Regions from separate parts of the Homo sapiens genome. Here region 2 is linked to region 1. The links come from fine-mapping of genetic effects on gene expression. A gene starts in region 1. The other region holds a variant in brackets. All regions are shown on one strand. Distances are from middle to middle. Region 1 holds the start of DNAH1 (dynein axonemal heavy chain 1). Region 2 overlaps PHF7 (PHD finger protein 7).

Region 1 (3,024 bases):
CTCACCGACGTACCGGTTCCACCGAGCAGTGCGGGGATGCATCAGCCCCGTCTCTAGGGAGGGACGCTAGGCCGTTGCTAAGGGGCGGGGCCATCCGGCACCGCAGGGCGGGAGCTTCCGTCCGCGAACCTCCCCAGCCTGAACCCTTACCTACCCACCAACTCCAGGTCTCGGTTACTTCCGCCCAGGACAGTGGGACTGGGATGTTCCAGCATATGCCCCGATCGGCAGGATTAGGGCCGACCAGGGAGCGTCACTCTTCTAGGCTCCATTACCCACCCATCTTCCCTCCTGTGCCCTTTTAGAGTAAGCAGCGAAACAGCTAAATGCAGCGTGAGAACTTTGATTAAATCCTGATTTAAATACATATACATATGTAAATAATTTGGGGAGGAATAATTGAAGAAATTTACGAACTGGAAGTTGGCATTTAAGCCACAGCTGCGGGACAGCTGGTCAGGGCACTGAGGAAAAGGTGGGTTCTGGTTCTCCTGGGGCTTGGCTCACAAAGCCACACCCACCCATTGCACGGTGACTCCACTCAGGCCGCCGCTTCCGCTGGGCAGCGGATGCGCCCGACACCCCTCGGCTCGGGCGCCCACCCTCTGATGCCCCTCATCTGCTCTCAGCACCTGGCATGGGTTCAGGTTTTGATCTTCCTGCCCTATTCTGAATATTGAATTATTGTTAATTTTCTTAGATGTGATAATGCTACTGTGGTTGTATCAGACTGTCCTTAGTTGACGTGGCCTGAAGTGTTTGAAGAAACACGTCAGAATGTCCGCTACAATTTCCTTTCAAATGGTTCAGCAAAAATTATACATATAGGTAAGCATAGCTAGATAAAAAGACAAAGAGGAGATAAAGCAAAAGTGCTGCAATATAACAATTAGGGAATCTGAAGGTCACAGATGTCCATGTACTAGTCTTCCAATTTTTTCTGTAAGGGAAAGAAGTGGTTTACAAACCAAAAGAACCAAAAGAAAAACATCACCCCATCTGTACCTGAGAACCCCTGCCCACAGCCTTCTCAAAACTGGCCCCATTTCACAGATGGGGAAACAGACTTGCTGAGACGGTTAGTACTAGGGGAGGTCATAGGCCCTGATGTTGAATTTTACTTGGCATTTTAGTCGTGCTGGCTTGGTGCCAGGCCTGTTGCTGGGCACTAAGTGTCTGGAACTGAACTGGACCCTATCCCCACCATAAAGTGTATTGAGTGGGAAAGATGGAGAGGCCAGGCCATGAGGAACCTAGAGGCAGGGTGTAATCTATGCCTGGAGACAGTGGTTCAGCCCTTGCACAGGCTTCTGCTTCCTCTGTCTAGAACCTGTCTCCATCCACTCCTGCATCTGGCGGACTCCTACTCACCCTTCAAGACCTGATGGTGGTGCAACCTTTCCTGAATCCAAACTGTGGTTTTATTTTTCTTGTTGGCATTCACACAGGTACTCAGTGATCACTGCAGAAGGAAGAAAGGACTGTGAGGGGAACTGGAGGCAAGGTGTCCACAGCTCTTAGAAGGGACAAGGACTCCATAGCCCTGTTTAGGGCAGTCTGGCTGCTCAATGGGTCTGCGTATAGGTTGGGTACCCCCCTTGGCCTGTAGAGAGGCACCTGCTTCCCTGCTTTTGCCTGGCACTTCCCACACTAGGTACAGCTGTCCAAAAAGCTGCAGCATCTATCCGGGTTGCCATGGCAACATCAGCCTATGGTGGGATGTCAGGGATGAGAGGGGCAGAATGCTAATCCTGGAAAGTTGCCAAGCAACACAGTGGGCTGGTGACATCACAGGGGCTGTGGCTGCTGGACAGATGGACAGGCCACAGCTGAAAGGGTCCACTCTCAGGAGGCCCAGCTCACAGAACCACTCACTGCTTACCATGTGATGGTCACTGCTGTTTCTCCCAACTGGAGAATGGACTTGAGGGGTGGGGGTCGGGGGTGCTGCTTTTACCAGCAGCCCTGCCAGCTCCACTTCGCCCCTCTTCAAGGGCGGGCTGTGGATATGACTGCCTCCCTCCTCCCTGGAAGGACACCGTGAGTCAGTCCCTGTTCTCCTGGGTCTCAGGGGCTACCCTCTAATGTGCTGTCTTCTCCCATGGCTGCGCAAGGGTTCAGGCTTTGGTCTTCCTGCCCTGTCCTGAAGGCCACCATACTTACCTTGCTCCCTGGGAAAGGAGCAGGGGGCTGAGCCATGACCCACTGGACTCCTGCCCCTCTTGTGATGGGAGGGCCATCTTTTGCCCTGAATAAGCTGGAAGAGAGGTCAGCCTTACCCTTGTTGAAATGGGAGGACTAGGTTTCTACAAGAGTTGGGGAGTCACTGCCCATCTCTTACTCAGATCCCCCTTGCTGAGGACTCTGGTGGCCTGGAAGCTGGGGGATTGGGGCAGATGGGCTGCTTAGGATGCCCTGGCCCAGGGCCATGCCTTTCCAGCATGGAGTCTGAGGTCATGGCAAGTCTGCACACCCCCTCCCCTGTGTCTCCTTGCTGGCTGAGATGGGAGCAATGCTTCACTGGCTGCAGAGATGAAAGCCCCTTGTGAATGGGCAGCAGAATGGGCCCTTCATGTGGCTGGCCAGCCAGAACGGAAGGTGACAGGCATCCAGACTGAGTGGCTGAGCTACCCGCTCCCCACCTGTCCCCAGCCTCCCTCTTGGGCCCCCAGGATCTTCCTCTGATTTTCTAGGCCTGGAGCTCTGAGCTATGCCACAAGAAAGTGAGTTGCAGGCATCGGGGGCGGGGGGTGTCAGAGAAGGGAATGGGTGAGGTCTACGATTCACTGCCTCCCCAGGCCTCCCCGACATAAGCCTCCCTGCCATTGCTCAGCTGCCCTCAGCAGTTCTGACCAGCATAATCATTTCTTTGATGAATAAAAATGGAGAAAATTTAATTCTCCTTTGATCCACATGATCACCTTGACAGACAAGACCTTGAAAGCCCAGAGCTCAAGCAAGGAGTAGAACAGAGTTTCTCCGGGGCTGGTGGACTGAAGACCACTGGCCCATGAACAGACAATC
Region 2 (2,759 bases), 100 kb before region 1:
TCAACCTGATAAAAACATCTATGAAAAAAACCTAGAGCTAACATACTTTAATAGTGAAAAACTAGATGCTGTCCCCTGATGTTGGGAACAAGACAAGGATAACAACTCACACCACTTCTATTCAATGTTAGGTTAAAGGTCCTAGCCAATACAACAAGGCAAGAAGAAATAAAAGGCAAAGATTGAGAGAAAGAAGTAGAACTGTCTTTATTCACACATGACATGGTTATGTGCATAGGGAATCCTGTAACAAGGCATTTACAACAAAATAAAAAAACAACTAATCAAACTCAATTTAACAAGATTACAGGATACAAATCAATATACAAAAATAAAATGCATTTCTATATACCAGCAATAAACTTAAAAATGAAATAAAAATACTATTTACAATAGCATAACCACAGAATATTTAGGAATACATTTAACAAAAGATGTACAAGACTTTGTCACCAAAACAACAAAACATTGCTGAGATATATTTTAAAAGACCCAAATAAGTGGAAAAATATACCATGTCCATGGATTGGAAGGTTCAATATTTTTTGTCAATTCTTCCCAAATTGACCTATAAATTCAATGCAATCCCAATCACAATCCCAGTAGACTTTTTTTTTAAAGAAAAATTGACAAGCTTAATATAAACTTTATAAAGAAAGGACCTGATAGTCAAAACAATCTTGGAAAAGATTGTAGAACTTAACAATACTGAATTTCAATATACTATAAAGCCACAATAATCAAGACAGTGGGGACTTGTGTAAGAATAGATACATAGATCAATGACATAAATAGATTATCCAGATCCACAGATATATGGTCAATTGATTTTGACAAAGGCACCAAGGCAATTCTATGGGTAGGTAAAGATTTCTTGCAACACACAAAAAGCACTGACCATAAAAGAAAAAAATGGATAAACTGGGCTCCATTACAATTACAAACTTGTTCTTTGAAAGACACCATTAAGAAAATGAAAAGGCAAGCCAAAGACTAGGAAGAAAATAGTCTCAATACATATATTTGAAAAAGAATTTGTATCTGAAATATATAAGCAATTCCTACAACTCAATAATAAAACCACTCAATTTTTTTTTTTTTTTTTTGAGACGGAGTCTTGCACTGTCGCCCAGGCTGGAGTGCAGTGGCGTGATCTCGGCTCACTGCAAGCTCCACTTCCTGGGTTCACGCCATTCTCCTGCCTCAGCCTCCCGAGTAGCTGGGACTACAGGCGCCTGCCACCATGCCCGGCTAATTTTTTTATTTTTAGTAGACACAGGGTTTCACCGTGTTAGCCAGGATGGTCTCCATCTCCTGACCTCTTGATCTGCTCGCCTCGGCCTCCCAAAGTTCTGGGATTACAGGCGTGAGCCACTGTGCCCGACCACCACTCAGTGTTTTTAAATGGGTAAAAATATTTGTACAGATACTTAACAAACGAAAATATGTGGGCCGGGCCAGGCGCGGTGGCTCACGCCTGTAATCCCAGCACTTTGGGAGGCCGAGGTGGGCAGATCACGAGGTCAAGAGATCGAGACCATCCTGGCTAACACGGTGAAACCCTGTCTCTACTAAAAATATAAAAATTAGCCATGCGTGGTGACAGGCACCTGTAGTCCCAGCTACTTGGGAGGCTGATGCAGGAGAATTGCTCCAACCCGG[G/A]AGGTGGAGGCTGCAGTGAGCCAAGATCATACCACTGCACTCCAGCCTGGGCGACAGAGCGAGACTCCATCTCAAAAAAAAAAAAAAACCAAAAAACCAAAGAAAATATGTGAATGGCCAATATGCACATGAAAAGAAGCTTTAGTCATCAGAAAAATGGAAATTAAAACGACAATGAAATACCAATACACACCCAGTAGAATGGCTAAAATTAAGAACACTGACAAAACAAAGTTCCGGCAAGAATACTGTGCAACTGGACTTCTTATAAATTGCTGGTAGGAGTGTAAGCTGGTACAACCGCTTTGGACAGTGATGTGGCAACCTCACATAAAGTTAAATATCTAATTAGCATACAACTAGTAATTCCACTTCTAGGCATCTGCACAAGAGAAGTGAAAGCACATGTTCACAAAGAGACTTGTACATGAATGCTTAAAGTAGCTTTATTCATAATAGTCCTCAAATGGAAACAATTCAGATGTTCATCAACAGGTGAACAGATAAGCAAATAGTAACTTATTCATGCAACCGAATACTACCAAGTAATAAAAAGGCACAAGCTATGAATGCATGCAACAACATGGATGAATCTCCAAAACACTGTGTTGGGAGAAAAAAGCCAGATACAGAAGATTATAAACTATATGATTTCACTTATATGAAGTAAAAGAATAGCCAAAAATAATCCATAGATCAGAACAGTGATTACGTCTAGTGGGATTGACTGGAAAAGGAGGCAGGAGGGAACTTTCTGGGGTGATGAAAATATTACCTATTTTGATTGGGGTGGTGGTTATTTGGGGACATACATTTATCAAAACTTATCAAACTGGACCCTTAAAATTAGTGAATTTTGTTCAAGACCAGCCTGGCTAACACGGTGAAACCTGTCTCTACTAAAAATACAAAATTAGCCAGGCATGGTGGTAGGTGTCTGTAATCCCAGCTACTTGGGAGGCTGAGGCAGGAGAATCACTTGAACCAGGGAGGCAGAGGTTGCAGTGAGCCGGGATCACGCCACTGCACTCTAGCCTGGGCAAGAGAGTGAGACTCCGTTCTCAAAAAAAGAAAAAAATTGGTGATTTTTACAGTAT

The links. PIP is the estimated chance that this variant, and not a neighbour inherited with it, causes the effect. A credible set is the group of variants that fine-mapping cannot tell apart.
Region 2: its variant is the best candidate, but not a certain one, in a credible set for the expression of DNAH1 in testis (GTEx, PIP 0.64).

Annotation. Positions count from the first base shown.
Region 1 is chr3:52,314,893-52,317,916 of GRCh38, reverse strand. It overlaps DNAH1 (dynein axonemal heavy chain 1), which reads right to left and starts at 1,598. Exons shown (of 78, transcript NM_015512.5): 1 at 1,372-1,598. RefSeq lists a silencer at 1-207 and an enhancer at 146-1,084.
Region 2 is chr3:52,415,180-52,417,938 of GRCh38, reverse strand. All of the region lies in intron 4 of PHF7 (PHD finger protein 7), which reads right to left. Among named protein-coding and RNA genes, the nearest start is that of PHF7, 5.9 kb to the right of the region's middle. The variant G/A (reference allele first, on the strand shown) is at 1,663.